Linked DNA regions of Homo sapiens. The protein of the gene in region 2 purifies or fractionates together with the protein of the main gene of each other region. This does not show direct contact. Each region holds a gene or a part of one and is shown on either strand. Other genes may lie near its edges.

Region 1 (16,315 bases), on a different chromosome or scaffold from region 2:
GAGCAACTATACTGTGAGCAACTATATGCCAATAAATTGGAAAACCTAGAAGAAATGGATAAATTCCTAGACACATATGACCTACACAGATTAAATCATAAATCCAAACCTTGAACAGACCAGTAACAAGTAATGATATTGAAGCCGCAATGAAAAGCCACTGAGCAAAGAAAAGCCCGGGTCGCAATATTTCACTGCCAAATGTTATCAAACGTTTAAAGAACTAATGTCACTCCTACTCAAACTATTCCAAGAACTAGAAGAGGAAGGAATACCTCCAAACTTAATTTATGAGGCCAGTACTACCCTGATACCAGAACCAGCCAGATGCAATCGAAAAGGAAAACTACAGGACAATATCCCTGATGAACACTGACGCAAAGTTTCCACTGTTTCAACAGCACATGAGAAAGATCATTTGTCATGACCAAGTGAGATTTATTCCAGGAATGCAAGGATGGCTCAACATACACAAATCCATCAATGTGACACATCATATCGGCAGAATGAAGGACAAGAACTACGTGATTATTTCAAGTGATGCTGAAAAGTATTGATAAAATTCAACATCCCTACATGATAAAAATCTTCAAAAAACTGGGTATAGAAGGAACACACCTCAGTACAATAAAAGCCATATACAAGACTCACAGCTAGTACCACACTGAATGGGGAAAAATTGAAAGCCTTTCTTCTAAATCTGGAGCAAGACAAGGATGCTCGCTTTCACCACTGTTAGTTAACACAGTACTGGAAGCTCTAGCTAGAACAATTAGACAAGAAAAATAAAGGGAATCCAAATTGAAAAGGAAGATAATTATTCTTGTTTGCAGATGATATAATCTTACATTTGGAAAAACCTAAAGATTCCACAAAAAACCTATTAGAACAGATAAACAAATTCAGTAAAGTTGCAGGATACAAAATCACCAAAAAAGCCCCAGTAGCATTTCTACATGCCAACAGTTAACAAATCTGAAAAAGAAATCAAGAAAGTAATTCCATTTACAATAGCTACAAACAAAATAAGATACCTAGGAATTAACTTAACCAAAGAAGTGAAAGATCTCTACAATGAAAACTATAAGGCCAGGCGCAGTGGCTCACACCTGTAATCCCAGCACTTTGGGAGGCTGAGGCAGTCGGATCACGAAGTCAGGAGATTGAGACCATCCTGGCTAACATGGTGAAACTGTCTCTACTAAAAACACAAAAAATTAGCCAGGTGCGGTGGCAGGCACCTGTAGTCCCAGCTACTCGGGAGGCTGAGGAAGGAGAATGGCGTGAACCTGGGAGGCGGAGCTTGCAGTAAGCAGAGATCGCACCACTGCACTCCACCCTGGATGACAGAGCGAGACTGTCTCAAAAAAAAGAAAGAAAACTATAAACCACTGACATGAGAAAACTGAAGAGGACACACACAAAAAATGGTAACATACTCCATGGACTGGAAGAATCAATATTGTCCATACTACCCAAAATGTCCATACTACCCAAAGCAATTTACAGACTCAACGCAATCCCTATCAAAATACCAATGACATTCTTCACAGAAATAGAAAAAATAATCCTAAATTTATATGGAACCTCGAAAGACGTTGAATAGCCAAAGCCATCCTGAGCAAAAAACAAAACAAGACAAAAACAAACAAAAAACTGGAGGGATCACATTACCTGACTTCAATTTATACTACAGAGCTACAGCGACCAGAACAGCTTGGCACTGGCATAAAAACAGACACACAGACCAATGGAACAGAATAGAGAAGCCAGAAATTAAATCCATACATTTACAGTGAACTTATTTTGACAAAGGTGCCAAGGACATATCTTGGGGAGAGGACAGTTTCTTCAATAAATGGTGCTGGGAAAACTGGAACTCCATATGCAGAAAAATGAAACTGGACCCCTATCTCTCACCATGTACAAAAATCAAATCAAAATAGATTAAAGACCTCAATCTAAGACCTCAAACTATGAAACCACTAAAAGAAAACATTGGGGAAACTCTCTGGGACATGGCCTGGGCAAATGGGATCACATCAAGTTAAAAAGCTTCTGCACAGCAAATAAAACAATCAATAGTGAGGAGACAACCCACAGGATGGGAGCAAACAGCTGCACAAATACCCATCTGACAAGGGACTGACAACCAGAATCCATAAGGAGCTCAAACTCAATAGAAAAAAATCTAATAACGCGATTTAAAAATGGACAGATCTGAATAGACATTTCTCAAAAGAAGGCATACAAATGGCAAACAGGTACTTGGCAGGAACGTGACAAACACTCATCTCTGAAAAGCTGTCCATGCATCCCCAGTCTCTCCTGTAACATCTGTTGCTCCCGGAAGGTCTCTCTTGACAAGAACAGGCCTGGTGGCCTCACCAGCAGCACACATCGAGCAGGAAAACTGCAGCAAAGCTGAGCAGCTGCCGACTGCAGGCCTGGCGACAACCAGGGCACCCCTGCAGGGCGAAGTCCATGAGTCACCCACCTGAGGGCGGCACAGGGCAGTTTGTTCAAGGCCTGCTTCACAACTGCACGGCCATACGTCCGTCCTGCCTGCCTCGCCGGGGTTCTGGGTGTGGTCAGTGTCCTGGGCTCGGAGCTGCAGTCATGTGAGCGTGGGGAGATGCATTAGCCCCTGCCGCACTGGGACACCCCCTTTCCACAACTTCAGACACCATCCCGGGGCCTAAGGCTCCAGGGCGGCTAGACCGCCTGTGTCCTGACCTTGCTCTGAGGCTCACCTGGCTGTGCTACCTGAGTGAGCTCTGAGGCCTCTGAGCCTTGTAAGGAGGAGATGAAGTTATTTCCAGGCCCTTCCAGTGAAGTTCAGTGATTTAAGCCGAGTCTAGCAGGCTGCTGGAAGGTTTCCTACGAGTCAGAAGGCAGTCAGGACCTTCTGTGCAGAGAGGATGGGGTCCCAGGGCACCAGTCCCTGGGTTGTTGAGGGGGTGGAGGTGTCTGCAAGGAGCCCACATGGAGCTCCAGGACGGGGTCGCAGGGCTGATCAGAGTAAAAGGGGCAGCACCGTGACTCCACACGAAACTCACGTGAAGGGCCGTGCAGGGTCTCTAATAGGACGCAAACCCCATTGGGAAGAAACGGGCCATGCTGGAAGAATTGTCTTGGGCCACACATAAAATAACACTAACACTAATGATAGCTGACGAGCTAAAAGAAAAAAAAAAATCACAAAAACAATCTCGTAACATTTTAAGAAAGTTTATGAATTGGTGTTGGGCAGCATTCAAAGCCGTCCCGGGCTGCATGTGGCCCACGGGCCGCAGGTTGGACAAGCTTGCTTTAGATCAACAATGTGATGTCAGCTTTCTAACAGACAGCTATTGATACAGAGTAGGCTGCTTATACATAGCTACCAATACAGTTATAGCATTTATAGGCAGCTGTCGACACATAGTTATGGTATTTTTAGAGTTACGGTATAGTTATACTGAGTTACACCGTTTACAGCTAGCAATAGAGTTCCAGTATTTACAGAGCGTGCTCCACAGAGTTCCAGTATTTACAGACAGCTATCGATACAGTGATGGTATTTTTAGACAGTGACGGTATTTTTAGACAGTGATGGTTATTTTTAGACAGTGACAGTAGGCTTACACCGACAGCTATCAGCTATGGAGCTTCAGTATTCACACAGAGCTCTCCATACAGAGTCATCACACTGTTTTGAGGAGTAAGACTTGGCCCATGACACAGACTCCACTTTCCTTGTGGGCCATGCTCTGCCTCAGGCTTAAGGAAGGTGGGAGAGAAAAACCAGCCGGCCGCCTGCACTTCTTGCTGGGCTCTGTTCTTGCCCTGGCCCCTTGAACTGCCCTCCGCAGCCCAAATATTTAGCCAGTGCCAGAAGTGCCTGCTGCAAGTGCCGGGCAGCATGGACACTGACCCCGCACTCTGCCCACTTTCTCCCCACTGGGCAGAGCCTGATGTCCTCAGGGGCCCTCTGTGCTGCCTGGTGCCGAACCCACGCCAGCTCCAGGAGGGGCCGGCCAGCGTACATGGTGACTCAACTTCCGCTGGCCTGATGAGACCAAGGGGGGTGAACAAAGGCTCCTGGTGGGAAAGGGTCCCCCTGTGTCTCTGCGCACAGCCCCTAGGCAGCCACTCTGCTGCTGGAGGGAGAGAGCCGGAGAATGAAGCCTGGCCATGGAGGCAAAGCAGGGGTGTCCTGAGCAGGTGCTATGTCACACCTGGAGCCGGCCCTACGGGTGGACCCCAGCAGCACAGACGAGGGAGCGAGTCAGGGCTTCCATCCTGGCCCCAGAATACCCCGAGTGACTCTTCAACTCACCACCTTCAAGCCATTTCTCATCAGGAAACCTACCTCTTCAAGGCTGAAACCTGGAACCATGCACAGTGAAGAGGCCAGACACAAAAGATCACATGTCTGACTACGATGACAGGTAACTCAGAGACAGAAAGATCAGAGGTCACTCAGCTTCCCCGGTGGCCACAGTGTGTAGCATTTTAGCAAGTCACTGGGGCCTCAGATCCAAGACATGCCCTCCAGGCCAGATTCTGCCAGCAGTAAAGCCAACACTCAGCCCCATCTGTAGGACTCCTGCCTGCCTGCCTGCCCGTCTCTTGGTGGGTTCCAAAGCCCAACGACATAATTATCCCCAACAAACCAACCCCGACTCCACTCTTCTCCCAGTCCAGGTCCACCAACCATGGTGGCTTTTCGGGAAAGTGCGTCTTGATGGATGGGAGCACTAAGGAACCTTCTGCAACTGCTGAAGTGCACACTGTGCCTAAGAGACAATAACTACACAAGTCATCCTTTCTAACATCCTTGGAATTCATAACATCAAACATTAAAACAGTTCAGCTCTCTTCTAGTTTTTCCAAGATGTGAACAGGAACGTCCTGTGACTAGGAATAATGAAAGGACATTTGGTGCATACAGCACTCTGAAAAAAGAACAAGTGAGTTAGTTAAAAACAGCACGTCAGCCCGCCTGTGTTGGAGAGAGGAACAGACTGTCCAGGAGAAACACCAGTTACCTGCGGGACGTCATCAAACAGTCGCTGAGCAAAATGGGAAAGCACGTCGTCCACGGACTTCCCGTTGCCAAAATGGATCACTGCGCCTGTGGCTTCAATGGCGGCCACACGGACCTTCCAGTGCTGGTGGGAGATGGTCTGCATCAGGGGCCCGATCAGAGACTCCGACTGCATGTGGAAGTGGTCTGAGGGACAGGGAGGCCCCCAGTTACCAGAGCTGCTCCCACACGCCTCGCCCAGCTCTGTGGGCTTCCAGAGGACGGCTGCCTGCCTATGAGTTCCTCACCTCCCTTCCTCTCCTACGCCAGGTCCTTGCTGCATGAACAGTACACAATCCAGGCTGCCAAGGAGAGCTCTGTACCGCCCGGCACAGGAAGAGGCTCAGGGACAAGCGTCCCACCCTGATGACACCTGTGCAACCCAGAGGCTTAGGAGGACCAGCGGGGAAAGGCTGGGGGTGCAAACCCATTGTGGCTGAAGACCAGAGAGCCTGGACCTGCTGAAGCCAAGGTGGAGGCCTGACGGGGACACTGGCCAGAGGAAAGAAGCCGAGCCCAGAAGACAGAGGCGAGGCCACACTCCCAGCCCCACCTGAGACGAGACCCCAGGCTCCTCCAGGAAGCTGGGCCAGCACCACTCCAGGCAAAGCCACTGCACTTCCTATTTGTAAAGTCCCCGCAGAAAGTCAGAACAAGAGGTGGCAGGCGCCTGTAATCCCAGCTACTTGGGAGGCTGAGGCAGGAGAATCGCTTGAACTCAGGAGGCGGAGGTTGCAGTGAGCTGAGATCGCCCCACTGCACTCCAGCCTGGGAGACAGAGTGAAACCCTGTCTCAAAAAAAAAAAAAAAAAAAGTCAGAACCAAAGGGTCTCTGGCATCCAGGCCGCCTCTTGCCTCAGCTCTGCACTACTTGGGGCCCGTCTGGGAAACGGCTATTCCAGTGAGACTTTGGGTGAGCGCCTCAACCTCTCTGCCGTTGCCCAGTGTGACCGAGACCAGAGGTGAGGCCCCCCACCCAGGGGAGAGGAAGGCCAGAGGTGCTGGAGATGAGGGGATGCTCCAGGCAGAGGCACAGTCCCTCACCCCACAGCAACCAGTGAGCACATACCCCAGCAGGCTGCGCTTGGGGCTGGGGCACAGATGGGCACAGTGCTGTCCTGTGGAACCTACGGTCCAGGGAGGGAGCTCGTGGGGCTGATGTACAGACTGGGTAGGGAAGTGGTTGAGGATGAAGAAGAAATACATTAAATGCCAGGAATTCTCAATGGCCATGTCCATCCAGCCCAAGGTTCTTCCCCAAGCTCCACAGGAGTTCTGGACCATGTGAAATCCAAAGTTAACCAACGTGGAAATCTCGGCATTTCCCCAAGTCCAGCTCTTCCTCTACTTCTGGAATCTATTCTCCACGCAGCTGCAGTGATCTTTTAACAACCTGAACTCGGGTCTATCACTTCTATTGACACCCCCTGCACTTCCCACTACATTCAGACCATCACTGGGACATCACTGGGACGGCCTGAGCTGGCCAGATCCCTCACTGCTTTCCTGCTCCCTACCGCCCACGGATTTATAGCATCAGTGTTCCCTCCTTCGGAAAGCCTTCCCGCCAGCAGGAAGCAGGCGCCTGCTATCATTCCACATCCCAGCCAGGGGAGGGAAAGGGCAAGACCCTGCAGGAATGGCCAGCTAAGGAAAGGGAACGACCGGATCAGATCAGAGCTCTAAAAAAGATGGGGAACGTTATAAAGTGGAGGGGAGAAGCGGCCTCCTTCCACTTAGGACAGTGGTCCAAGCCAGAGCGGAAAGGCAGGGGAGTAGGATGAATGGGACAGAAAGTGAAATGACCAGAGCAGAGTCTCAAAGCGCGTGCCCTCAACCAGGTGCAAGTCCTGCAAGCCCCCGAGGGAAGGAAAGGGGGCAGCTATCAGGGCACACCCCACCCCAAACCGCCTAACAGGAATTTCTGCGGTGGTTTCCAGGTATCTGGACAGAAGCGCTGGCTCGTGGGCCCGGGTGGGGTGGAGGGGGCTCAGGCAGGGAGGAGGGTGGGAGGTGAGGGTCGCGGGAGGGCGGCGTGCAAGGAGGAGGATGGCACAGGATAGGCAGGTGGAGGGGGCACAGGGAGCAGGCAGGTGGGGGGCGGGGCTTGGGGCGTGGAGGGTGGAGGCGGGGAGCAAGGGGACAGGGGAGTGAGGTGAGTGAGGGCCAAGCAGGAACAGGGGTCACGGGGCAAGGAGCACGTGGCAGCGCAGGAAACAGGTACATGGGGGTAGAGGACAAGGGAGCAGCTGAAGGGCGCGTTGGTGGCGGGACGTGAGGCAGGGGAAGCAGTGGTGGTGGGAGGAGGGGGCCGGGCGGGGTGCTTTGGGGCAGGCGGGTGGGGGAAGCGGCGCATGGGGGGTCCGGGATGTTGGGGGGTGCGGGCGTGGAGGGGGGCGGGGCCGAGCCGCGGGGGTTGTGAGAGGGGCCGCGGAGGTGGAGGTGGGGGTGAGAGTGTGGGGTGGCGTGTGGGAGCGGGGCCCGGGGTGCTCACCGGGCGTGGCCTGCGCCAGGGCGGCGGCGCAGCTGCAGCTCTCGCGGCGCACGGCGGCGAAGGGGTCGAGCAGGGAGCAGCGCAGCGCGCGCAGAGCGTCGTCCAGGTGGGGCGCGAGCGCGGCGCCGCACAGGTCCACGGCCAGGCCCAGCAGCTGCACAAGCGCCAGGCGCAGCTCCTCACAGGCCTCGGGCGGGCGGCGCGCGGGCACGGGGCCGGCCAAGCGCGCGGCGAGCGCGGGCAGCAGGCGCGGCAGGGCATCGCGGGGCCGCGCGGCGCGGCGCAGGCCCAGATCCAGCAGGTGCACTGCCAGCGCGCGGCAGCCCTCGGCGGGGTCGCTCAGGCAGCGCAGCAAGCGCGGCAGCAGTAGGCGCGCCCAGGGGCCCTGGAAAGCGGTGGGGTCGGCGGCAGGGCCTGGCTCCTCCAGCGCGCGCCGCAGGGCCTCCAAGGCGCGCCGCCGGCCCGGCTTGCTGTCGGCCTCCAGCCCCGGCAGCAGGCGGCTCAGGGCGCGGCTCAGCTCCACCGCCTCAGCCGTCTCGGCCCCCTCAGCCGGGTGTGGGGCCGCCACGGCCTCCGCCACCCCCAGCGCCGCCATCTTGCCCGCGTCGCCGGTCACTAAGGGGAACAGCGCTTTCGCGACTCTCAGCGCAGATTACGGCAGCACTTCCGGTCCGCGCTGCGGGCGGGGCGCCGGGCTACTTCCTCCCCGCCGGTGCGCACGTGGGCCTGTGCTCTTGTCGTGCTCGCCCGCTGTCCCCCTCTGTCGCCGGAACCCCCGCCAGCCTGCCTGCTGGGCCTTGTCCTGTCCCCATTGTACAGATGGGGAAGGTCTCGGGAGGGTGCAGCTCGCCCGGGATGCGGGTCCCGGGCTATAGGCCTGGGCCTGCCCCTAGGGAAGCCTGCCCTGCAGCCTAGGGGGCTTGGAGAAGGAACCTGAGTGGTCCCGCCTGGGACCAGGGTAGCCGGGAAGCCCCTGTTTGAGCCGCCTAGAGCCCCTCTGGCTTTGGGAAGGTCCGTTCCAGGAGGGAAGGACGCTGGTTCTGTGGACTGGATCCCCCTGTGGTGTAAGACAGGTGCCTGGTCTGGGCTTCACGTGCAGCCTGTCATTAGATCTCAGGCGTAGCCGCCCAATAGGTTCGCCTTACTCGCTGCCCAGGTAGAGCCAATTTATCAAGACAGGGGAATTGCAATAGAGAGTTTAATGCATGCAGAAACTGGCTGCATGCAGAAACTGGCTGCATGCAGAAACTGGCTAAAGGACACTGGAGCTTTATTGCTCAAACCAGGTTCTGAAAATCCTGAGATGGGTCATCTAAGGATAATTAGGCAGGTAGGGGGCCAGGGAGAGGGCAGTGCTTATTGGTCGGGTTGGAGATGAAACCATGGAGAGTCAAAGTTGATTCTCTTGCTGTCTTCTGTTCCTGGGTGGGATCACAGAACTGGTTGAGCCAGATTAGTGGTGTGGGTGGTGGCACCTGGTGCATCAGAATGCAGAGCCTGAAAAATATCTTGAGCACCAATCTTAGAGTTGATGATAGTGGTGTTATCCTAAGGAGCAACTGGGGAGGTTTGGAATCTTGTGGCCTCTAGCTGCATGACTCAAACCACAATTTCTAATCTTGTGGCTCATGTGTTAGTCTTACAAAAGCATTCTGGTCCCCAGGCAAGAAGGAGGTTGGCTTCAGGAAAGGGCTGTTATCATCTTTGTTTCAAAGTTAAACTATAAACTAAGTTCCTCCTAAAGTTAGCTTGGCCTACTCCCAAGAAATAACAAGGCAGCTTGGAAATTAAAAGCAAGACAGTGTTTCACAGTAGTGACCTTGACTGTGGACTTGAGTGGAGACAGAGGCGCCTAAACAGCTTGGAGTCGGAGTTGCTGTGAGCCCAGCCTAGAACGCGAGTTTGACAGCACTCACTGCAAACCAGGAGTCCCCAAGTCTGGTTAGCCAGGCACTTCTCATCTGTGACCATGCACTGAGTTTTCTAAAGGCAGAATGTGTGTAATTTTAGGACAGAACTTCAAGTTTGACCTTCTTTTTTGTTGTTGATCTTCGTGTTGCAAAATGGTGGTGTTTGTCGGTACGTCTTTTTTTTTTTTTTTTGAGATGGAATCTTGCTCTGTCGCCCAGCCTGGAGTGCAGTGGCGCGATCTCCGCTCACTGCAGACTCTGCCTCCCAGGTTCATGCCATTCTCCTGCCTCAGCCTCCCAAGTAGCTGGGACTGCAGGTGCCCACGACCACGCCCAGCTAATTTTTTGTATTTTTAGTAGAGACGGGGTTTCACTGTGTTAGCCAGGATGGTCTCGATGTCCTGACCTCGTGATCCGCCCGCCTCAGCCTCCCAGAGTGCTGGGATTACAGGCGTGAGCCACCACGCCCGGCCCATCAGTACTTCTGAAAAGTTGTTATGTAGCATATTCAGTAACCTTCATTCATTGTTTCCTCCAACAGGCATTTGTTTGACCAGGCACTGTCTGCAACATGTGGGACAGGATGACAATGATGTAGAAACTGGCCATGGTCCCTGCTCTCCCAGATCTTAGGGTCTTGCAGGATGAGATAGCCCTTAATGGAAGGATAAATTAGTATGTGTTTAACCGTGGTGGTCCTGAGAGAATGAGTGTCAAGGGATGTTGAACTAGACTTTTAAGGCTTCCCTGAACAAATGGTAGCAGAGGTGAAATATGAAGAATAAGTAAACACAGTGTATTAGTCCATTTTCACGCTGCTAATAAAGACATGGCCGAGACTGGGTAACTTATACAGGGAAAGGTTTACTGGACTCACAGTTCCACATGGCTGGGGAGGCCTCACAATGATGGCCGAAGGCGGGAAGGAGCAAGTCACATCTTACATGATGGCAGCAGGCAAAGAGAAAATGAGAGAGCCTGTGCAGGGAAACTCCCCCTTATAAAACCGTCAGATCTCGTGAGACTTATTCACCATCATAGGAACAGCACAGGAAAGACCTGCCCCCATTATTCAGTTACCTCCCACTGGGTCCTTCCCACAACACGTGGGAATTGTGGGAGCTACAATTCAAGATGAGATTTGGGTGGGGACACAGCCAAACCATGTCACATAGCCAGGTGAAAGGGCGGAGGTGGGAGACGGGGAGTGTTGGAGAGAGAGGAAATAGCATGAGCAAAGGCCTCATGGGAGTGTTACGGGCTGAATGGCGTCTCCCCAAAATTCATATGCTGAAGTCCTAACCCCCATAGTTCAGGAAGTGATCCTGTTTGGAGACAAGGTCTTTGCAGACGTGATTGAGGTGAGATGAGGTCATGAGGTTGGGCACTCATCCAATATGACTGCTGTCCTCATAAAAGGAGAAATTTTGGAGATAGACGTGCATACAGGGAGAATGCAGTATGAGCATGAAGAGAGACCTCAAGAGGAGCCAGCCCGTACCCTGATCTTGAGAAATCAAATTTGTTTCATTCAGCTGCCCAGCCTGGTGTGCTTTGTTACGGCAGCCTCAGGTAGCAAACAGGGAGGGAGGCTGACCCTGGTCACAGGGGAGCAGGCAGGGAGTGAGCAGATGGGTGGGGCCAGGCCATGGGGGCCTCTGTCCTAAAACATGGCAGACTGAGGATTTCAAGGTGGGAGCATTGGCAAGATCGAGTCTGCATTTTTCAAGGACCCCTTTGGCTTCCGTTGAACGGATTGGTCGGGAGCCCTGGGAAGGCTGTGGCAGTGAGTGCTGAAGACGAGAAAGAATAAGCGCTTGAATTACGGTGGTGGGACTTCACTTTTCCTTGCTCCTCCCATTGAAATACAACAAAATACCCTGCACATAGCAGGCGACGAGGAAAGGAGCTTGAGAGTTGACAGACGGGCTGGAGACCTCTGGACTGGAGGAATAGCAAGGTGGTGGGTCCCCTGGGTTTTCTTTTTCTCTCATGTGTTCCTGCACTAGTCCCCAGGGAAGCCTGTGGCCCAGAACAGCCAACAGGCACAGACAGAAATTCTCCAAGGAAAGCCTCCTCTCTCTGGCCAAAGCCCTGGGAAAGGGGACGCCCAACAGAGACCTAGAGGGTAGCTGCCACCTTCACCCCACAGTCTGCTTTCAGGGCCGATTTTAAAGCTGCTGCAGGTGCATTAACCTGTGCTGTGCAACTGGGGTTCGAGTGGACAGTCTGCACTGCACAGGTAGTGTCAGAGGAGCCTGAAATCTGCCCTTCCTCTCTTAGCACAAAGAGACCCAGAACGAGCATGTTCTGTCCTGACACAGCAAAAGGTAGCCCAGTGACACCAGGCGGCCCAGGGAGGTACCTTTCACCCCTGCAGGCAGCACCCATGGGAAATGAGCAGCAGTCCCAGGAGAGCCAGAAGAATAAAGCAGACGAGGAGGGCAGTGCCAGGGCTCTGAAGACGAAACTGCTGTTGGAATGACAGACCACAAAAACAGGCTGCAATCTACACCCTGGACCTGAACAGAGCAACTGCCTGGTGGAATAGAGTAGGACAAGGAGTCTGCAAACATCGTAACCCAAATGTCCAGGATACATCTGGAGATCACTTGTCATACCAAGAACAAGGAAAGCCACAACCTGAACATGGTAAGGTAACGGATGTAAATTCCAAGATAGGTCACATGTTGGAATCATCTGCCAAGAATTTTAAAGCAGAGTCATAAGAACCAGCTGGGCGCGGTGGCTCACGCCTGTCATCCCAGCACTTTGTGAGGCCAAGGCGGGCAGATCACCTGAGGTCAGGAGTTTGAAACCAGCCTGGACAACATGGTGAAACCCCATCTCTACTAAAAATACAAAAATTAGCCAGGCGCGGTGGCTCACGCCTGTCATCCCAGCACTTTGTGAGGCCAAGGCAGGCAGATCACCTGTGGTCAGGAGTTTGAAACCAGCCTGGATAACATGGTGAAACCCCATCTCTACTAAAAATAGAAAAATTAGCCAGGTGCAGTGGCTTACGCCTGTCATCCCAGCACTTTGTGAGGCCGAGGCGGGCAGATCACCTGAGGTCAGGAGTTTGAAACCAGCCTGGACAACATGGTGAAACCCCATCTCTACTAAAAATACAAAAATTAGCTGGGTGTGGTGGTGGGTACCTGTAATCCCAGCTACTCGGGGAGGCTGAGGCACGAGAATTGCCTGAACCCAGGAGGTGGAGGTTGTAGTGAGCCAATATCATGCCACCGCACTCCAGCCTGGGTGACAGAGCAAGACTCCATCTCAAAAAAAAAAAAAAAAAAAAAAGGCTGAAAACTCCCCCAATTCAATGAAAAACATAAATCCACAGATTCCAGAAGCTCAACAAGGCTTCATAGGACAAGCCCTCCAAAAACCCCATACTAAGACACATCACAATTAAACTCCTGGAAACTAAAGACAGAAGGAGGAAAAGTACTAACTGACAGAGAGAAATAATGCCTTGCCTAGAGAGGAACACCAGTTTGAATGAAGGCAGATTTCTTAACCAAAACCACAAAAGGCCAGAAAGAAGTGACCTGCCATTGTTCAACTGTAAAGGGGAAAGAGCTGTTGACTGTGAGTCCTCTACCCAGCAAAACTATCCTTCAGGAATGGAAGAGGAGTAAAGATGTTCTCAGACAGGCAAACTAATAGAATTTATTGCTAGCAGACCTACCTTTAAGGAATGCATAAAGGATACCCTGTAAACAGAAAGGTAATTTTTTTTTTTTTTGAGACGGAATTTCGCTCTTGTTGCCCAGGCTGGAGTGCAATGGTATGATCTCAGCTCACTGCAACCTCTGCCTCCCAGGTTCAAGCAATTCTCCTGCCTCAGCCTCTCGAGTAACTGGGATTACAGGCATGTGCCACCATGCCCGAGTATTTTTTTATTTTTAGTAGAGACAGAGTTTCTCCGTGTTGGTCAGGCTGGTCTTGAACTCCTGACTTCAGGTGATCCACCTGCCTCAATGCCCCCCAAAGTGCTGGGATTACAGGCGTGAGCCACCGTGCCCGGCCCAGAAAGATAATTTTAACAGAAGAGGGCTGGGGCCTCCAGAAAGTTGAGACAATGGACTGGATAAAAATAGAAGTCAATGTCACTGACCATCTTTCACCTCATGAGTTTCTTTAATCATATTTGATGATCGAAGCAAAAATTACAACACTCATGTGGTGTGTGATGTATGTGGAGGAAATATCTACAGCTAGGTATTTAACAGTGAGAAGGGTTAGGGACTTAAGTGGAAGGAAGGTTTGTCCACTCACTCAAGGTGGAAAATCATAGATGCCGATAGACCGATGGGTTGCATATGTATATGGTGATATCCTCAAAAACATAACGTGGAATTCTAAAAAACATTCAGGTATCCCACAGTAAAGCATGAGAGAACAGATGATTAAATGGCAAGCGTAAGCCCTAATATATCACTAATTTAAATGTAAATGGCCTAAACACACCAATTAGAAGACAGAGGTTCGCCACGTGGATACAAAACATGACCCAACTGTATGATGTCTACTATATGCTGAAGCTCACTTCAAACATAATAACATAGGCACATTGAAAGTAAAAGGATGGCAAAAGAGTATCATGTAAACATAAATTTTAAAAAGCGGGAGTGGCTGTTGAAATTCCTTGGGAAAAAGAGGGACATTACATAATGATAAAAGAACCCACTGGGAAGATAACAGCAATCCCAAATGTGTGTACAGCAAACAACAGACCTTCAACATGTATAAAGCAGAAACTGATAGAGCTGAAAGGAGGAAGAGACAAGCCTGCTGTTGCAGTTGACGACTTCAGCCCCCAACTCAGCAGCTGCTAGAATAACTAGGCAGATAGTCATTAAGGTATAGCAGAGCAACACCATCAACCAACAGGATCTAATTGACGTTTGCAGAACACACCACTCAACAATCGCAGAATTCACATTATTTTCTAGTGTCCTCAGAACAGAGACCAAGATATACCATATCCTGGGCCATAAGGCAAACCTTAGCAAATGTAGAAGACTTGCACAGAGGGCTGGGCGCGGTGGCTCACACCTGTTATCCCAGCACTTTGGGAGGCCGAGGCAGGCGGATCACCTGAGGTCAGGAGTTCAAGACCAGCCTGGCCAACATGGAGAAATCCTGTCTTTACTAAAAATGCAAAAAATTAGCTGGGTGTGGTGGCACGCACCTGTAATCCCAGCTACTCTGGAGGCTGAGGCAGGAGAATCACTTGAACCCAGGAGGCGGAGGTTGAAGTGAGCCAAGATTGTGCCACTGCACTCCAGCCTGGGCAACAAGAGTGAAACTCCCTCTCAAAAAAAAAAAAAAAAAAAAAAAGACTTGCACAGAACGCCTTCTCTGACAATAATGGAATCACACTTACCATCAACAGCAGATAGCAGGAAAATCTTCACACATGGAGATTAGACAGTTATTCTACTCAGAAAGAATTGCTGCACGCAACTTGGACGAACCTCTAAAAGATTATGCAGATGAAAACCAATCCCAAAGGGATATTTTGTGGTTTTGTTTGTATGACATCCATAAAGTAACAGAGATGGGGAACAGATGACTGATCTCCTGGGGCTAGGGATGGGGTGGCGTGATTATTAAGGGTCACTAGGAGGGAGCCTTGTGGAGCTGGTACAGTATAGTACCTGGATTGTGGTGGCAACTGCATGAATACCCAGAGGGGTCATGACCTCTCTTCTTTCCCCAGACACACTGCCAGACGGAATAGCTATAAACTGGATGACAGAAGCAGGGCAGTAGGACAGGAGGGCCAACACGTTACAACAAATGAAACAGGCCTTGGGATGCTGAGACGGGAGAATCACTTGAGGCCAGGCATTCACGTCCACCTGGGCCAAATAGTGACACCTCGTCGCTACAAAGAAATATTAAAACTTAGCTGGATGCAGTGACTCACACCTGTAGTCCCAGGTACTTGGGAGGCTGAGGCAGGAGGATTGCTTGAGCCCAAGAGCTTGAGACCAGCCTGGGCAACATAGTGAGACCCCCATCTCTACAAAAAGAATACAAAATTATGGCCGGGCACAATGGCTCATGCCTGTAATCCCAGCACTTTGGGAGGCTAAGGCGGGTGGATCACTTGAGCTCAGGAGTTTGAGACCAGCCTGGCCAAGAGGGTGAAACCGCGTCTCTACTAAAAATACAAAAATTAGTCGGGTGTGGTGGCAGGCACCTGTAATCCCACCTACTCGGGAGGCTGAGACAGGAGAATTGCTTAAGCCTGGGAGGCGGAGGTTGCAGGGAGCTGAGATCAGGCCACTGCACTCCAGCCTGGTGACAGAGCAAGACTCCTTCTCAAAAGAAAAAGAAAAAATAATAAGCTGGGTGTGATGGGGTGCACCTGTAATCCCAGCTACTCAGGAGGCTGGGGTGGGAGGATCACTTGGGCCAGGAAGGTTGAGGCTGCCAAGAGCTATGATCATGCCACCGCACTCCAGCCTGGATGACAGAGCGAGACCTTATCTCATCAAAAAAAAAAAAAAAAAAAAAAAGCCTATAAAAGAGATGAAGTTCTGTATGTTACCAAAATGAAACAGGAACAAGAAGTATGTAAGAGAAAAGGTCAGGGATATGGAGAACAGAAGCAACAATGCTAATATCTGTTGAATAGATGTCCCAGGAAGGCAGAAGAAAAGTGGGAAGTAGGAGGTATTTGAAGGGATAATGAAGGCACATTTTCTAGACTTAAAAATGGGTCAGGTCAGGTGCAGTGGCTCACGTCTATAATCCCAGCACTTTAAGAGGCTGAGGCGGGTGGATCACCTGAGGTCAGGAGTTCGAGACCAGCCT
Region 2 (15,852 bases):
AGAGAGAGAGAGAGAGAGAAAGAAAGAAAATAGGGACAGGGTCTTGCTATGTTGACCAGGTTGGTTGTGAACTCCTGGCCTCAAGCAGTCCTGCCTCAGCCTCCCAAAGTACAGGCGTGAGCCACTGTACTCGGCCCAGCTTTTCCTTTTAAGCTTTTCGGTAGGTCTATTCCTTTCCCCACCTGTTATCCACTGCCTCAGGAAGCTGCAAAGTTAGTCAGTTGCCTGCAATTACACCCTGATGAAAAGACTTTTCACACCAGGCAAAGGCTGAACCAAGTCAATTACAGCCAACCTTGCAAGAGGAGCCTTATCAGGGAACCACCAGACCGGTCAGATAATGACAGTTCTTTGGGCATGAGACTTGAAAGGAGCTCCAGCCTCATTCTGCTCCCTCTTGTGGCGCCAGGCTGCTGTTTTTCATCAGGAGTGCAGAATGTGAATTTTCAAGGCCACCACGGAACTGCAGAGTGTGCGATCTTAACTAGGGCAAGTGAAAATGCCACTGTTCTTACCAAGATTCTGCTGTTTTTCTTGAATAAACATTCTCCCGACTGCCCTAAGCCTCTGGCTAATTTCCAGAGTTCTGAAAAAGTTGATTCTGACCATTTTTGCCAGTTTTCTCACTGCTATTATGGAGGAGAGAATTTTTGGAGGTCCTTACTTCACGGATTTTGCTGATGGCACACCTGGAAAACTGATTTTTGTTTGTTTGTTTCTTTGAGACAGAGTCTCGCTGTGTCACCTAGGCTGGAGTGCAATGTCACGATCTTGGCTCACTGCAAGCTCCGCCTCCCAGGTTCATGCCATTCTCCTGCCTCAGCCTCCCGAGTAGCTGGGACTACAGGTGCCCGCCACCACGCCCAGCTAATGTTTTGTATTTTTTTTTTTTAGTAGAGACGGGGTTTCACTGTGTTAGCCAGGATGGTCTTGATCTCTTGACCTCGTGATCTGCCTGCCTCGGCCTCCCAAAGTGCTGGGATTACAGGCATGAGCCACCGTGCCCAGACTTTTTTTTTTTTTTTTTGAGACAGGGTCTTGCTCTGTCACCCAGGCTGGAGTACAGTGGTGTGATCTCAGCTCACTGCCACCTCCGCCTCCTGGGTTCAAGCGATCCTCCTGCCTCAGCCTCCCCAGAGGCTGGTGCATGCCACCACGCCTGGCTAATTTTTGTATTTTTAATAGAAACAGAGTTTTGTCATGTTGGCCAGGCTGTTCTCAAACTCCTGGCCTCAAGTGATCCACCCACCTTGACCTCCCAAAGTGCTGGGATTACAGGCGTGAGCCACCAAGCCCAGCCCAAACTGCTTTTTTTTTTTTTTAATCTCCAGTGAGATCAGAAGTCACCTGCCTGGGTTGGCTCTGAATGTCCCTACCTGCTCTGTTCCCCTGAACCTGGAGTCGCCAGACACCCAACCCATGACTACACCCAGGCCAGTCTTGACCCTGGGCGTAAAAAGCATTCCCCACTCCTCTCTGCTCTGTATGTTCTTATACTTTTGCTGCTTCTTCGGGAGTGGGAGCCAGGATGGCTGAGAAACTCCTCCTCTGAAGCTGTCTGTAGTCAGCTGCTTCCTAAGGCCCCGATCTCCCTCTCAGACCTGCTGCCTCCTGCCCAGGGGAGCTTTCAGATTATGGAATAGACCCGGGCTCCCATAAACGTCCCTGCCAAACTATCTGGGTGCCAGAGCTCTAAAAGACTGAGGCAGAGCCACTTTGCCATGATTAATTCAAGAGCCTTGACTCAGTCATTATTCATAACCTCTTTCAGTGGTTTTTCATGCCAGCTCATACCAGCCCAGACTCTGGTGCTCCGCTGCTCCAAGAAGGGCCCCTCTAGGGCCATGTGGGACCCAGTGGGACCTACTCTTGAGCACTGCTTTGCCAAAGTAGAACAGGCTTATCTTTTATTTTTATTTATTTTTATTTTTTGTTTTGTTTTTGAGACAGCCTTGCTTTGTTGCCCAGGCTGGAGTGCAATGGCATGATCTCAGCTCACTGCAACATCTGCCTCCCAGGTGCGAGTGATTCTCATGCCTCAGCCTCCTGAGAAGCTGGGATTACAGGTGCCTGCCACCACGCCCAGCTAATTTTTTTGTGTTTTTAGTAAAGATGGGGTTTCATCATGTTGGCCAGGCTGGTCTTGAACTCCTGACCACAAGTGATCCACCTGCCTCAGCCTCCCAAAGTGCTGGGATTACAGGTGTGAGCCACCAGGCCTGGCCTATTTTTATTTTTTGAGACAGGGTCTTGCTCTGTCACCCAGGCTGGGGTGTAGTGGCACGATCATGGCTCACTGCAGCCTCAACCTCCCAGGCTCAAGCAATTCTCCCACCTCAGCCTCCCGAGTAGCAGGCAGCCTCCCGAGTAACAGCCTCCCGAGTAGCATGTGCCACCATGCCCAGCTAGGTTTTAAATTTTTTGTAGAGACGGGGTCTCACTATGTTGCCCAAGCTGCTCTTGGATTCCTGGGCTCAAGCAATCCTTTTGCCTCGGCCTCCTAATGCGCTAGGATTACAAGCATGAGCCACTGTGCTTGGCTGAGCAGGCGTATCTAAGAAAACATATTTCTGGGCCAGCTGAGTTCAGGGAAAATGCCTTGAACTTGGAGAAATACTAAGTCAAAGCTTACGAGCTAAGTACTTTTGTTATTTTACAAAACGGCCTTTCCTAGAAACAGCTCTGAGTGACAGGGTGAGCCCTCATTGTGCATTCATGGGAAAATGGAAACGAAATCTAACAGGACAAAGGACAGATAACCTTTCCATCTTTCTTGGCAAAGCACTAATAACAGATCACAGTAAAGGCTAAAGCTCCTCTGTGAGTTTCTTTCCAACAGAGGCAGCAGAGGTACAAAGGATAAGAGGAAATGGGCTAATGTAGCAGAGAGATTCACCTAAATGGAGTCTTTCCACGTGCTTTTCCCTACGTTAGGGACTCGGCTCTCCTCTCGCCTGGCTCCCTCCATCCTGAGGCTCATCTTCCATCTCAGCTACCTGTCACTTCCTCCAGGAGGCCTTCCCTGACCACCCTCATGTGTTCCCCTGCCACTATGCCTGTCCTATCCCCAGAGGCTTGCCCAGGGCCAAGTGTTGGGTAGGGAGTCAATGCCTGGGAGGGGCTCAAGGAACTGAATGAAGCTTGCACTCTGGGAGTCTCTCCAGAGAGTCTGTAGAGGCTGGTAGGAAACTCAGGCTGATTTGAACCAAGCCCTGATTCTAGAAAACCACATACCTGCCAAACCAGAAGCAGCAGCCCCCTCTCTCCCCTGCTCCCTGCCCTAAGGAAGGAAGCCTGTGCCCCCTTCCACTCCTTCTTCATCTCCTTCCTCACCAGCCTGCTGGGACACCCGAAAGGGCAGCCTGGTGGCGGAGCTATCCACCATTGAGTCCAGCCACCGAGACCCTGTGTATGGCACCATCTGGCTGCAGTCGAAGACGGGCACCGAGTGCTTCTCAGCTTCCACGGATGGGCAGGTACCCACCAGCCAGACACTGGAGAGAGGAGGGAAGGGAGGGGCAGTAACTGTTCCCTGGTTCCCCATCAGAACCCCTGGGGACATTTCCTTTAACACATTTTATTTTGAGATGGAGTTTCACTCTTGTTGCCCAGGCTGGAGTGCAATGGCACGATCTTGGTTCACTGCAACCTCTGCCTCCCGGGTTCAAGCAATTCTCCTGCCTCAGCCTCCCAAGTAGCTGGGATTACAGGCGCCTGCCACTATGCCTGGTTAATTTTTTATTTTTAGTAGAGATGGTGCTTCACTATGTTGGCCAGGCTGGTCTCGAACTCTGACCTCAGGTGATCCACCCGCCTTGGCCTCCCAAAGTGGTGGGATTACAGGCATGAGCCACTGCGCCCAGCCTAACACTTTATTTTTAAGTTGAGTAGTGATAATACATGCCCACGGAACAGAATCTAAAGGGTGCAAAAAAGAAAATGCCTTCCTCTCACCTCTGCCTGCACCTCCTCCCCTCCCTCCCTCTCTTATGTCTGCCTTCAGAGCTAGTCTCTGCGTATGCAAGGAAACACACCTCTCTCTTCTTTACTCTTTCTTTTTGCACACTTCACACACTATTCTGTACTCGATGTTTTCCATTGTGTGTACCTTGGAGATAGTTTCATATTTCATACACCGCTGCCCCATGCCTATTAATAACTGCATCATGTGGGTGTACCATAATTTATATATGGATTCTAATATTTTGTTGCTACCCCCCAAAAAATACAGCAAAGAGCATCTTTATACACAGATTGTTGCACACATGCGGGGATATATCTACAGCAGACATTGCTGGCAGTGGGACTTCTAGGTCGGAGCACACATGCATTTTTAACATTGCCGGATATTGCCTTATTGTGGGGAGTCTTGGCATATACCGATTCTTGGCCTTGCACCTGGAGGTTTTGATTCAGTAGGTCGAGGGCGAGGCCTCAGCATCTGGGTTGTATGAAGCTTGCCGGCGACTCTGATGATCAGCCAGGTGTGGGAACTGTGGACAGAACAGCAATCCTCAAAGTGTATTTGCTCCCACGAATTGCCGGGAGCTCCATCCTTTGTGGCCCAGTGGCTGACCCCAGGACGGTGGGGTGAGGGCGGAGAAGGCAAAAGCCAGGGGAAATACAGGGCCTCGAAGTCTCACTGTCGCCCCTCCTCCCACCAGGTCATGTGGTGGGACATCCGAAAGATGAGCGAGCCCACTGAAGTTGTGATCTTGGACATCACCAAGAAGGAACAGTTGGAAAATGCCTTGGGGGCCATCTCCCTGGAGTTCGAATCTACTTTGGTGAGTGTCCCTTGCTGTCCCTTCCCCGACTTGCATTGACAGGGCAGCCAGGGCTAAAGACAGGCCATTGCTAGGATATCAGGTGCTCGTGGAACCCAGCACCAGCCCAGGGAGGCCACCCTCACTGCAGCCATCCTAGACGTGTGTGGCCTTTACAACAACTTTCCAGCAGGGGGCAGCAGAGCTTCTCGAAGAAGGACACCATAGTCATCATGGCACCAAGTCATCTTTTGGCCAGTGGCCCAGCTGAACACAGAGGGCAATCTTTTGACAGAACAATTCCAGAAAAGCCCTGTTTTGTGGGGAAGGTCACGCCCAGGACCAACATCGGGAGGCCTGGACTCCAACCCAGGTCCTGGCCCTGCCTGGCACGGGGTCCCTAGGCTGGTCACCTGCCTTCCTCTGGGGAAGGAAGAGGTACTGGAGAGGAAAATGAGGTCAAAGCAGGCTCCTTGGAAAACCAGAGCACAAGCATGGTCTCGGTGTTCAGTCACTGAGAATGACAAAGAAATATCAAAGTTCAGGTCGGGCAGGGTGGCTCACGCCTGTAATCCCAGCACTTTGGGAGGCCAAGAATTTAAGACCAGCCTGGGTACATAATGAGACCCCCCCCACCGCCCGCCCAGTCTTTACCAAGAAAGAAAGAAAGAAAGAGAGGGAGAGAGAGGGAAAGAAAAGGAAAGAAGGAAGGAAAGAAGGAAGGAAGGAAGGAAGGAAGGAAGGAAGGAAGGAAGGAAGGAAAGAAGGAAGGAAGGAAGGAAGGAAGGAAGGAAGGAAGGAAGGAAGGAAGGAAGGAAAGAAGGAAGGAAGGAAGGAAGGAAGGAAGGAAGGAAGGAAGGAAGGAAAGAAGGAAGGAAAGAAGGAAGGAAGGAAGGAAGGAAGGAAGGAAGGAAGGAAGGAAAGAAGGAAGGAAGGAAGGAAGGAAGGAAGGAAGGAAGGAAGGAAGGAAGGAAAGAAAAAGAAGAAAAATATCAATGTGAGGCAAGGCGCCGTGGCTCACACCTGTAATCCCAGCACTTTGGGAGGCTGAGGTGGCAGGATCACTTGAGCCCAGCAGTTCAAGACCAGCCTGGACAACATAGCAAGACACTGTCCCTACATAAGAAAAGAAAAAAAGGGCCAGGCACGGTGGCTCACACCTGTAATCCCAGCACTTTGGGAGGCCAAGGCGGGCGGATCACCTGAGGTTGGGAGTTCGAGGCCAGCCTGACCAATATGGAGAAACCCCATCTCTACTAAAAATACAAAATTAGCTGGGCGTGGAGGCGCACGCCTGTAATCCCAGCTACTCGGGAGGCTGAGGCAGGAGAATTGCTTGAACCTGGGAGGCGGGGGTTGCGGTGAGCCAAGATCGCATCATTGCACTCCAGCCTGGACGACAAGAGCGAAACTCCATCTCAAAAAAAAAACAAAGAAAAGAAAAACAGGAAATATCAGTTTGAGCATAGTGCAAATGTGTTAGAGGAGGGAAGCTTCCTAGAAGCAGTAAAGGAAGACTTCCTCGCTAGAGTAAGAAGACAACTTTCCCTTGTTGTTGGCTTTTGGTTTGGGCTGAGTCTTGGTTTACGTCTTAGTGCAGCCCAGGCCTGGTTCCCCCTTGGGGGTGTCACTTGTTTGCTTCGGGGTCATGGGCCATCATTCCTAGGGCTTTGGGAGGCCCTGGCCTCGAACATACCTGGGCAACCCTAGCTCAAGGCTGAGAGATGAATGTTGATGGAAGGAGGAGACAATTCCACTGACCCCCTCCCCAGAGGACAAGGCACTGGGCAGGGAGGTTGGGGTGGCGAGGGCTCAGGAAAACATTCTGTCCCAGAGGCAAGGCTTTCTAGGCCAAGTGCTAGACATGCAGCCACATCACTACTAGGGCCATCTCCTCCATGCCTGGCCCTTGCAGGGTGCACACTGTGTGTTGGACACTTGTGGCTGCCTGATTTAATAAGCTTGTGCAGTCGCCTACAACCATCTCGTGGGGTAATGTTATTATCCGTACTTGCCAGACACACACGATGAGTCTTCATGAGATTAGGTTGTGAGTCCTAGTACCTGGTAAAGCTGGGACTCAAACCCAGGGCTCCAACTCTGAGGCCCAGAGTGTCCACCTGCAGCCCACCATGAAGTCTGAGGCTAGAGGCACGATGGGCCACTCAGATCTGGGTGGCCTTTCTCTCTGGCTCACTGACGGGCGGCGTGCAGTCGGCTTGAATACTTTCTTCTCTGGACCTCTCAAGCTTGGTCTTTCCACTTGCCCTTGACGCCCAACTTGAAGCCCAGGTTTTTGTTTTGTTTTGTTGAGACATCGTTTTGCTCTGTTGCCCATGCTGGAGTGCAGTTGTGTAATCTCAGCTTACTGCAACATCCACCTCCTGGGCTCAAGCCTCAGCCTCTTGAGCAGCTGGGACCACAGGCACATGCCACCAAGCCAGGCTGATTTTTTTTTTTTTTTTGAGACAGAGTCTCACTCTTGCCCAGGCTGGAGTGCAGTGACATGATCTTGGCTCGCTGCAACCTCTGCCTCCCAGGTTCAAGTGATTCTCGTGCCTCAACCACCACACCTGGCCATGTTCTGGGTATTTTCTAGAGATTTTATATTTATCATTTTAGTAATTTTCTGGTAGAAGAAAACTGCATAATAAAACAATATGTTTTTTAAAAAAATAAAAATAAAAAAGCTGGGGGGCCAGGTGCAGTGGCTCAGGTCTGTAATCCCAGCACTTTGGGAAGCCGATGTGTGCAGATCACTTGAGCTTAGGAGTTTGAGACCAGTCTGGACAACATAGGGAGACTCCATCTCTACAAAAATACAAAAATTAGCTGACCCTGGTGGTGTGTGCTTGTGGTCCCTACGTGGGAGGCTGAGGTGGGAGTACTGCTTGAGCCCAGAAGGTCAAGGATGCAGTGAGCTGAGATCGCACTGCTGCACTCCAGCCTGGGCAATGGAGCCAGAACCTGTCTCGAGAAATAAATAAATAAACTAGGAGTTCTTTTTTCTTTTCTTTTCTTTTTTCTTTTTCTTTTTTCTTTTTTTTTTTTTTTTTTTTTTTTTTGAGGTAGGGCCTTGCTCTGTAGGCCAGGCTGGAGTGCAGTGGCATGATCTCGGCTCACTGCAACCTCTGCCTAAAACCTGGGAGTTCTATAGGGGCAGGTTCACCAGCTGCAGAGGACATCTGAGCCCGTTGACAAAGGCCCTCCCCTCAGTGTGCCCCTCCCCTACCTCACTCAGCTGTTCTTTCCATTTGGAATGCTGAGGACACAGCACCATTGTAGGCTCAGGCCCTGCTGGTGGAGGTTGTTCAGTCTAGCCCAGAAGTTAAGACAGAACAGTAAACAAGGAAGGGCATTGCGTGATGGAGGGGGTCATGCTCAGAGACGCGAGGGGAGCACTGGACCAGGAGTCAGGAGACCAGCCTTTGTGCATTCAGTCCGCAGTGAAGTGAATAACTACTAAAGCTCAGTTCGTGGGCGATGGACCCATGTCAGACAAGCTCGTGCCCCTCAAAGAGCTCACCCACCAGTGGTAGGGGGACGAGTTACATCACCGACTGCCAGGTAACTTCCTGAGTGCTGGTTGGTCACCTGCTCTGAGTTCTCAGGGACACCAGCCTGGACAATGCTATGACAAATGTCACTGTCTTGCCAGGGAAGGCTCTGCCCATCCCATGAGTGATCTGGGTGGGCCACCCTGCATCCCCTCCCTGGGTCTTCTTTACTCTCTCTGTAAACAAACATTCAGGATCTTTATGGCCAAATGCATCGAGGACACAGTGGTGCTCTGCAGAGGGGGCTAGTGACCTGACAACCCTCCAGGACTGGAGGAGCCAGGGAGGGCTTCATTCAGCACAGGCTCCTTGAGCAGCTTCCAAAAAGATGGGGTCTGAGGAGCCCGGGAAGAGTGGGGACTGCTCTCCAGGAGGGGCCACAGCCCTTGCCAAGGCTTGATCTGAGGGCCTTTCTAGCGCCTGCAGACCCCCCAAGCAAGCTCCTGTCCATGCCCGCTAATCCCAGAATTGATGGTTCGTGGAGTCTTCCCCTCCTGTGTCACTCCTTCCACAGCCCACCAAGTTCATGGTGGGGACCGAGCAGGGCATCGTCATCTCCTGCAACCGCAAGGCCAAGACGTCAGCTGAAAAGATTGTGTGCACCTTCCCGGGCCATCATGGCCCCATCTACGCCCTCCAGAGAAACCCCTTCTACCCGAAGAACTTCCTGACGGTTGGCGACTGGACAGCCCGCATTTGGTCTGAAGACAGCCGGGAATCGTCCATCATGTGGACCAAGTAAGAGGCGATGCTGGGGACAGGAGGGGATGCAGGAGACAGGAGGGGATGGAGGGAGCCCAGCTGGGCCCCGGAGAGTCCCGAGCCTCCATATGTAAAATGGAGAAAAACCTTTCCACAAACACCCGAGCTCGTGTTAGCAAGTGACTTGCTCCAGCCACTCCACAAAGTGATAAGCTTCAAACACTCAGTTACTAAAAATAATGGCCATGGCTTAATTTTATTTCCTTTTTTTTTTTTTTTTTTTTTTGAGACAGTCTCGCTTAGTTCCCCAGACTGAGTGCAGTGGCGTGATCTCGGCTCACTGCAGCCTCCACCTCCCAGGTTCAAGAGACTCTCCTGCCTCAGCCTCCTGAGTAGCTGGGACTACAAGCACCTGCCACCATGCCCAACTAATTTTTGTATTTTTAGTAGAGATGGGATTTTGCCACGTTGGCCAGGCTGGTCTTGAACTCCTGACCTCAGGTGATCTGCCCACCTCGGCCTCCCAAAGCGTTGGGATTACAGGTGTGAGCCACCGCGTCTGGCTGGCTTAATTTTCATAATCCTCAAACTATCCCCAGGAGGAGGCAGCATTGCTCTTCTCTTCATCTCATTTTTCATGTTAGGGAACTGGGCTACAGAAAGGCCAAGCCACTTGCTCCTGCTCTCCCAGCTAGTGAGGAGCCGAGATTGGGTGTGAACCAAGGAAGCTTGGCTGGGAAATGCGGGTGCCTTGGCACAATTCAGCAGTGAGGCATAGCCTGTCTTGCTCAGTGCCACTCCTCTGAGGAGAGCAACAGACAGGGAGCTTGAGACAGAGCTATGAGCACAATGGTTAGACCAGAGAAGCTTAGACTATCACATCCCCCTCCATTCTTCTTAGGGCCCATTTACCTTGTCTAAAAGTGCCCTTTCTCCTCCTCCCCTTCATCTCCTAAATTAGGTAATAAGCCCGAATTCTAACCACCCCCTTGAGTCATTCACCACCGAGCACTGCCATGTGTATTGTGCATTGCATGTATAAATAATTACTTTTTTCTCTTGCTAAAAAAAACATCCTGGGGTTCCTTTCCTGCCCACAGAACCACAGACTCCTGCAACGTCAAAGCCACCAGCAACCCTAATGAGCATCTTTGGTTCCAGTGCTTCCCAAATCTGGTTGCATCAGAATATCTTGGGAGGAGTTTTTGTTTGTTTGTTAAAATGCTTTTGAGATGGAGTCTTACTCTGTCACCCAGGCTGAAGTGCAATGGCGAGATCTCGGCTCACTGCAACCTCCACCTCCCGAGTTCATGCGATTCTCCTGCCTTATCCTCCTGAGTAGCTGGGATTACAGGCGCACGCCAGCACACCCAGCTAATTTTTGTATTTTTAGTATAGACAGAGTTTCCCCATGTTGGCCAGGCTGGTCTCAAACTCCTGACCTCAGGTGATTCGCCTGCCTCAGCCTCCCGAAGGGCTGGGATTACAGGCATGAGCCACCGTGCCTGGTGGAGGAGTGATTTTTTTAAAATCCAGATTCTCAGCCCCAACCCTGGGGGTACTAACATAGAATCTTGGGCTTAGCCCAGGAATGGGTTTGCTAAGGAGCAACCCCAGGCTTGTGACTCAGCCAGTCCTTGCTTTGGGAGCAGAAACCTGGTTCGATGTCCTCATTCTACAGGGGTGGGAACGCTGGCTGACAAGGGCAGTGCATTGTTCCAGGCCTCATAGCAAGTAGGGGGTTCCCAGTAGATGTGAAGCCCTTTACAGGCTTTAGGAGCCTTCCCAATGTCTTCAGGTCCTGCAGGCTGCCAGGGCTGTGTGAAAGGAGCAGGGTGTCGAGCACAGCACCCATAGGCCTTTCGCAGGGCTGGTTCCTAGAGGGACTTGGTGGACCTGTGTCGTAGAACCTGGGTCTCCCTTGTCCTCCTCCTGCATAAGGTTAAACAAATTTAGCAAATAAGAATATTTGACCCTGGGCCAGGTGCAGTGGGCTAATGCCTGTAATCCCAGCACTTTGGGAGGCTGAGGCGGGAGGATCACTTGAGGTCAGGAGTTCAAGACGAGCCTGGCCAATATGGTGAATCCCCATCTCTAATAAAAATACAAAAAATCAGCTGGGCTTGGTGGCTAACGCCTGTAATCCCAGCACTTTGGGAGGCCGAGGCGGGTGGATCACCTGAGATCAGGAGTTCAAGACCAGCCGAGATTGCGCCACTGCACTCCAGCCTGGGCGACAGAGTGAGACTCCGTCTCAAAAAAAAATAATATTTGGCACTTAGTTAAATCTGAATTTTAAAAAAAAAAACTATTTTTTTTTTAGTATAAGTATGTCCCATGCAATATTTGGTATATACTTATACTAAAAATTATTCATTGTCCAAAAATCTCCAGATGTTTCTTTTTTTGGGGGGATGAAGTCTCTTTGTTGCCCAGGCTGGAGTGCAGTGGCACGATCTTGGCTCACTACAACCTTCACCTCCTGGGTTCAAGCAATTCTTCTGCCTCAGCCTCCTGAGTAGCTGGGATTACAGGCGCCCACCAACACCCCTGGATAATTTTTTTATTTTTAGTAGAGGCAGGGTTCTGCCATGTTGGCCAGGCTGATCTCAAACTCCTGACCTCAGGTGATCCACCATTCTCGGCCTCCCAAAGTCCTGGGATGACAGGCATGAGCCACCGCGCCCGGCCCAGATCCTTTCTTTAGTCTTGATCATTTCTCCCACTGTGGTCTGGCTGTCAACACACTAGGTTTGCAAAGGTGACTGGGAAGTGTAGTCTGCCTTGCTCACCAGGGGCCCAGCTACAACTATATTGCAATGGAGGAAGGGAGAGGAGGTCTGGGTGAAAATCTGAAGGCTGCACTGTGTGTGTGTCCCTTTTAAAAAAATGTTCCGTCTTCACTGAAGAAACTCTTGAAAACCCAGATGAAACCAAGTAGGAAGTGACACTCTCCTTATCTCAGCGGTAGCAGCTTTTCTGGGCATGTCCTTCCTCTGACTCCCATCCGTGAGTCCCAGGGCTGGGACCAGGTCCAGCAACACGTGCCTGCTGCCTGGAGTTAGCAGCAGAGAAATGCCAGTGGCCAGCCCACGGGAAGGACTGTGCCCAGAGCCCTTTCTTTATTTTATTTGAGACAGGGTCTCACTACGTTGCCCAGGCTGGAGTACAGTGGCACAAACATGGCTCACTGCAGCCTCGACCTCCTGGGCTCAAGCGATCCTCCCATCTCAGCCTCCCGAGGAGCTGGGACCACAGGTGCTCACCACCACACCCGGCTAATTTTTTTATTTTTTGTAGAAACAGGGTCTTTCCATGTTGTCCAGGCTGGTCTCAAAATCCTGGCTTCAAGCGATCTTCCTGCCTTGGCCTCCCAAAGTGCTGGGATTACAGGCACATGACCAGCCCAGAGCCCTTTAAAGAACAGCCTGTCAGACACCTGAGGTCAAGAGTTTGAGAGCAGCCTGGCCAACATGGTGAAACCCCATCTCTAGCAAAAATAAAATATTAGCTGGGTGTGGTGACGGGCGCCAGTAATCCCAGTTACTCGGGAGGCTGAGACAGGAGAATTGCTTGAACCCAGGAGGCAGAGATTGCAGTGAGCCGACATCGTACCACTGCACTCCAGCCTGGGCAACAGAGCAAGAGTGTCTCAAAAAAAAAAAAAAAAAAAGCAACCTGTGAGCTGTGGATGAGTGAGGTCAGCACAGCTAGAAGTCAGACACAAGGAAGAACTTCCTACCTAGCAAGACTCTGAGATCCTGGAGCCCAGAAGGGACCAAGTGAGCCAAGCTGTGGCTCAGAAGCCTCTGTCCCTCCAACCATGATGTGGTCTACCTCCCACAGGTACCACATGGCTTACCTCACTGATGCTGCCTGGAGCCCCGTGAGGCCGACCGTTTTCTTTACCACCAGGATGGACGGAACCCTGGATATCTGGGACTTCATGTTCGAGCAGTGCGATCCCACCCTCAGCTTGAAGGTCACGCGCATGTCCCTCCTTGTGCATCCAGGTCCTCAGGGAGCCAGGTCCCGGCGTGGGTGTGAGTGTGGGGTGCTGTGAGCACGTGTGCAGTGTGTGGCCAGGTGTGTTTGGGCCTCTGTGGGGGAGCCGTGTGCAGGCTGACTGCAGCGATTGCTTTTGAGCGTGTGCTCCTACAAAGGTTAAGGGGCCTGGGGGATTTGGCATCCTGGTAGCACAACAGAACCACCTGGGGGAAATTTAAAAAGAAACAAAAGCAGGTACCCGGCATCTCCTACCCACAGGCCGATTCCTTCAGAGCCCCTGGGGTTTGGCTGCTGGACCTTCCCCTTCATGTCAGGGTGGCCAGAGCTGAGCCCCACTGGCTGGGGCCACGGAAGGGTGGGGGCATTGGGGAACCACAGGGTGACTGTGAGGCGGAACTGAAGGGGTGGGGCGGGAGATGAGGCAGGGAAGCCAGGAGCCTTGACAACCAGTCTCCGAGTTTGAACTTCATCCTGTGGGCAGAGGCGTCCTGAGGATGTTTGAATAGGGCCAAGTGGCTGAGCCTCCCCAGGGGCCAGTTAATCAGACACACATAACTTTGCTCCTCTCTCCTCTACCTGGGTCTGCCCGGCCCCTTCAATAGGTGTGTGACGAGGCCCTCTTCTGCCTCCGGGTGCAGGACAATGGGTGTCTCATCGCCTGCGGCTCCCAGCTGGGGACAACCACCCTGCTGGAGGTCTCGCCTGGGCTCTCTACCCTCCAGAGGAATGAGAAGAACGTAGCCTCTTCCGTAAGCACCGGGTGCCTGGGGAAAATCCCTCCAGCACGTCCCGACCTGGCCCCACAGCAGAGCAGGCTAGTCAGACAAATAGATGGCCCCGCCCTCCCACCCCCAGAACATAGGTGCACATTTTGGGGGAAGCAGTGTGGGCTCCATAAATAGGTGTTGGTGTGTCCATTTGCCTTTGCTCAACTGCTGGGTAGCTAAGTGGCCTTCAGTAAGTCACGTCACTCTCCAGGATTCAGTTTTTTACCTGTAAATCAAAGAGGTTCGACTTGGTCAGTTTGTCTAGTTTCAAATAACACTTTTTTTTTTTTGTGGAAACTTTCCAATGAAGGCTTAGTATTGTATTATATTATATTGTATTTTAATTTAATTATTTTTATTTATTTATTTATTTTTGAGACAAAGTCACGCTCTGTTGCCCAGGCTGGAGTGCAATGGTGAGATCTAGGCTCACTGCAATCTCTGCTTCCCAGGTTCAAGTGATTCTCCTGCCTCAGCCTCCTGAGTACCTGGGATTACAAGTGCATACCACCACGCCCAGCTAATTTTTGTATTTTTAATAGAGACAGGATCTCACCATACTGGCCAGGCTGGTCTTGAACTCTTGACCTTAAGATGATCTGCCCACCCTGGCCTCCGAAAGTGCTGGGATTATAGGCGTGAGCCACCGTGCCCAGCCTAATTATTTTATTTATTTTTATTTTATCAGTTTATTTTATTTTACTTCATTTTGAGACAGGGTCTTGCTTTGTTGCCCAGGCTGGAGTGCAGTGGCACAATCATGGCCCACTGCAGCCTCTACCTCCCAGGCTGAATCGGTCCTCCCACCTCAGCCTCCTGAGTTGCTGGGACCACAGGCATGCACCACCATGCCTGGCTCATTTTTTAATTTTTGTAGAGACAGGGTCTCCTTATGTTGCCCAGGCTGGTCTGAAACTCCAGGGCTCAAGCAATCCTTCCACCTCAGCCTCCCAAACTGCTGGGATTATAGGCATGAGCCACCACGCCCAGCCTGAAGACTTAGTAGAATGCTAATAGGGAAGCCAGATAGAAGGGGACTTGAAGAGGGGGACTGAGATCCATTCCTACATCCTTTCCCCAGTGGACAGCCCTGCAGGCAACCCCCCAGAACCATGGGGAACACTGTGGAACTGAAAACCCCTAGTGCTAGGGCCGGGTGTGGTGGCTCACGCCTGTAATCCCAGCACTTTGGGAGGCCGAGGCGGGCAGATCACCTGAGGTCGGGAGTTCGAGACCAGCCTGACCAACATGAAGAAACCTCGTCTCTACTAAAAATAGAAAATTAGCCAGGCATGGCGTCACATGCCTGTAATCCCAGCTCCTTGAGAGGCTGAGGCAGGAGAATTGCTTGAACGTGGGAAGCAGAGGTTGTGGTGAGCCGAGATCGTGCCATTGCATTCCAGCCTGGGCAACAAGAGTGAAACTCTGTCTCAAAAACAAAACAAAACAAAAAAGGAAAACCCCTAGTGCTGAGGCCTGGAGAGCCTCCTGGCTCTGCCTGAGACTGGGATCTCACCATTGAGCTGGTCCTTGTTGGGCCAAAGCCGCCATATTTCATAGCTCCAAAGGGCGCTCTTCTGCCTGTGGTTCTGGAACTCCATGCTCCTTGGCATTGAGTAACTCAGTGTCCCTGCTGCAGCCTTCCAACCCCAATATTCAGCCCTCCTTCCTTGACACCAGCCCTGGGTACAGACCTCTACAGTACAGGGACTGTATGGAGAGCAAGGAGAGCTCAGCAGAAGCCCCACCTGGCCCCAGCACTGGAGTCGCTTGCCATCCTGCCCTCTCCCCACCGGGCTCTCTCTGTCCCTGGGTGCCCAGATGTTTGAGCGTGAGACCCGGCGAGAGAAGATCCTGGAGGCCAGGCACCGGGAGATGCGGCTGAAGGAGAAGGGTAAGGCGGAGGGCAGGGATGAGGAGCAGACCGATGAGGAGCTGGCCGTAGACCTGGAGGCGCTGGTCAGCAAGGCCGAGGAGGAGTTCTTCGACATCATCTTCGCAGAGCTGAAGAAGAAGGAGGCAGACGCCATAAAGCTGACGCCAGTGCCTGTA

The links.
Region 1: the proteins of DNAI2 (region 2) and DNAAF5 purify together in Homo sapiens (affinity purification with western blotting; 2 studies listed by BioGRID and IntAct, with this or other methods). This does not show direct contact.

What each region holds. Positions count from the first base shown.
Region 1 is NC_000007.14:718,566-734,880, reverse strand, and holds the start of DNAAF5 (dynein axonemal assembly factor 5), read right to left. Parts: upstream 8,183-16,315; 5' UTR 8,161-8,182; coding exon 7,566-8,160; intron 7,292-7,565; exon of another isoform or gene 7,205-7,291; intron 7,012-7,204; exon of another isoform or gene 5,947-7,011; intron 5,219-5,946; coding exon 5,034-5,218; intron 1-5,033. UniProt on the Homo sapiens protein: Cytoplasmic protein involved in the delivery of the dynein machinery to the motile cilium.
Region 2 is NC_000017.11:74,296,382-74,312,233, forward strand, and holds part of DNAI2 (dynein axonemal intermediate chain 2), read left to right. Parts: intron 1-3,336; coding exon 3,337-3,476; intron 3,477-4,664; coding exon 4,665-4,787; intron 4,788-8,837; coding exon 8,838-9,061; intron 9,062-12,871; coding exon 12,872-13,007; intron 13,008-13,635; coding exon 13,636-13,782; intron 13,783-13,875; exon of another isoform or gene 13,876-14,026; intron 14,027-15,316; exon of another isoform or gene 15,317-15,621; coding exon 15,622-15,849; intron 15,850-15,852. UniProt on the Homo sapiens protein: Part of the dynein complex of respiratory cilia.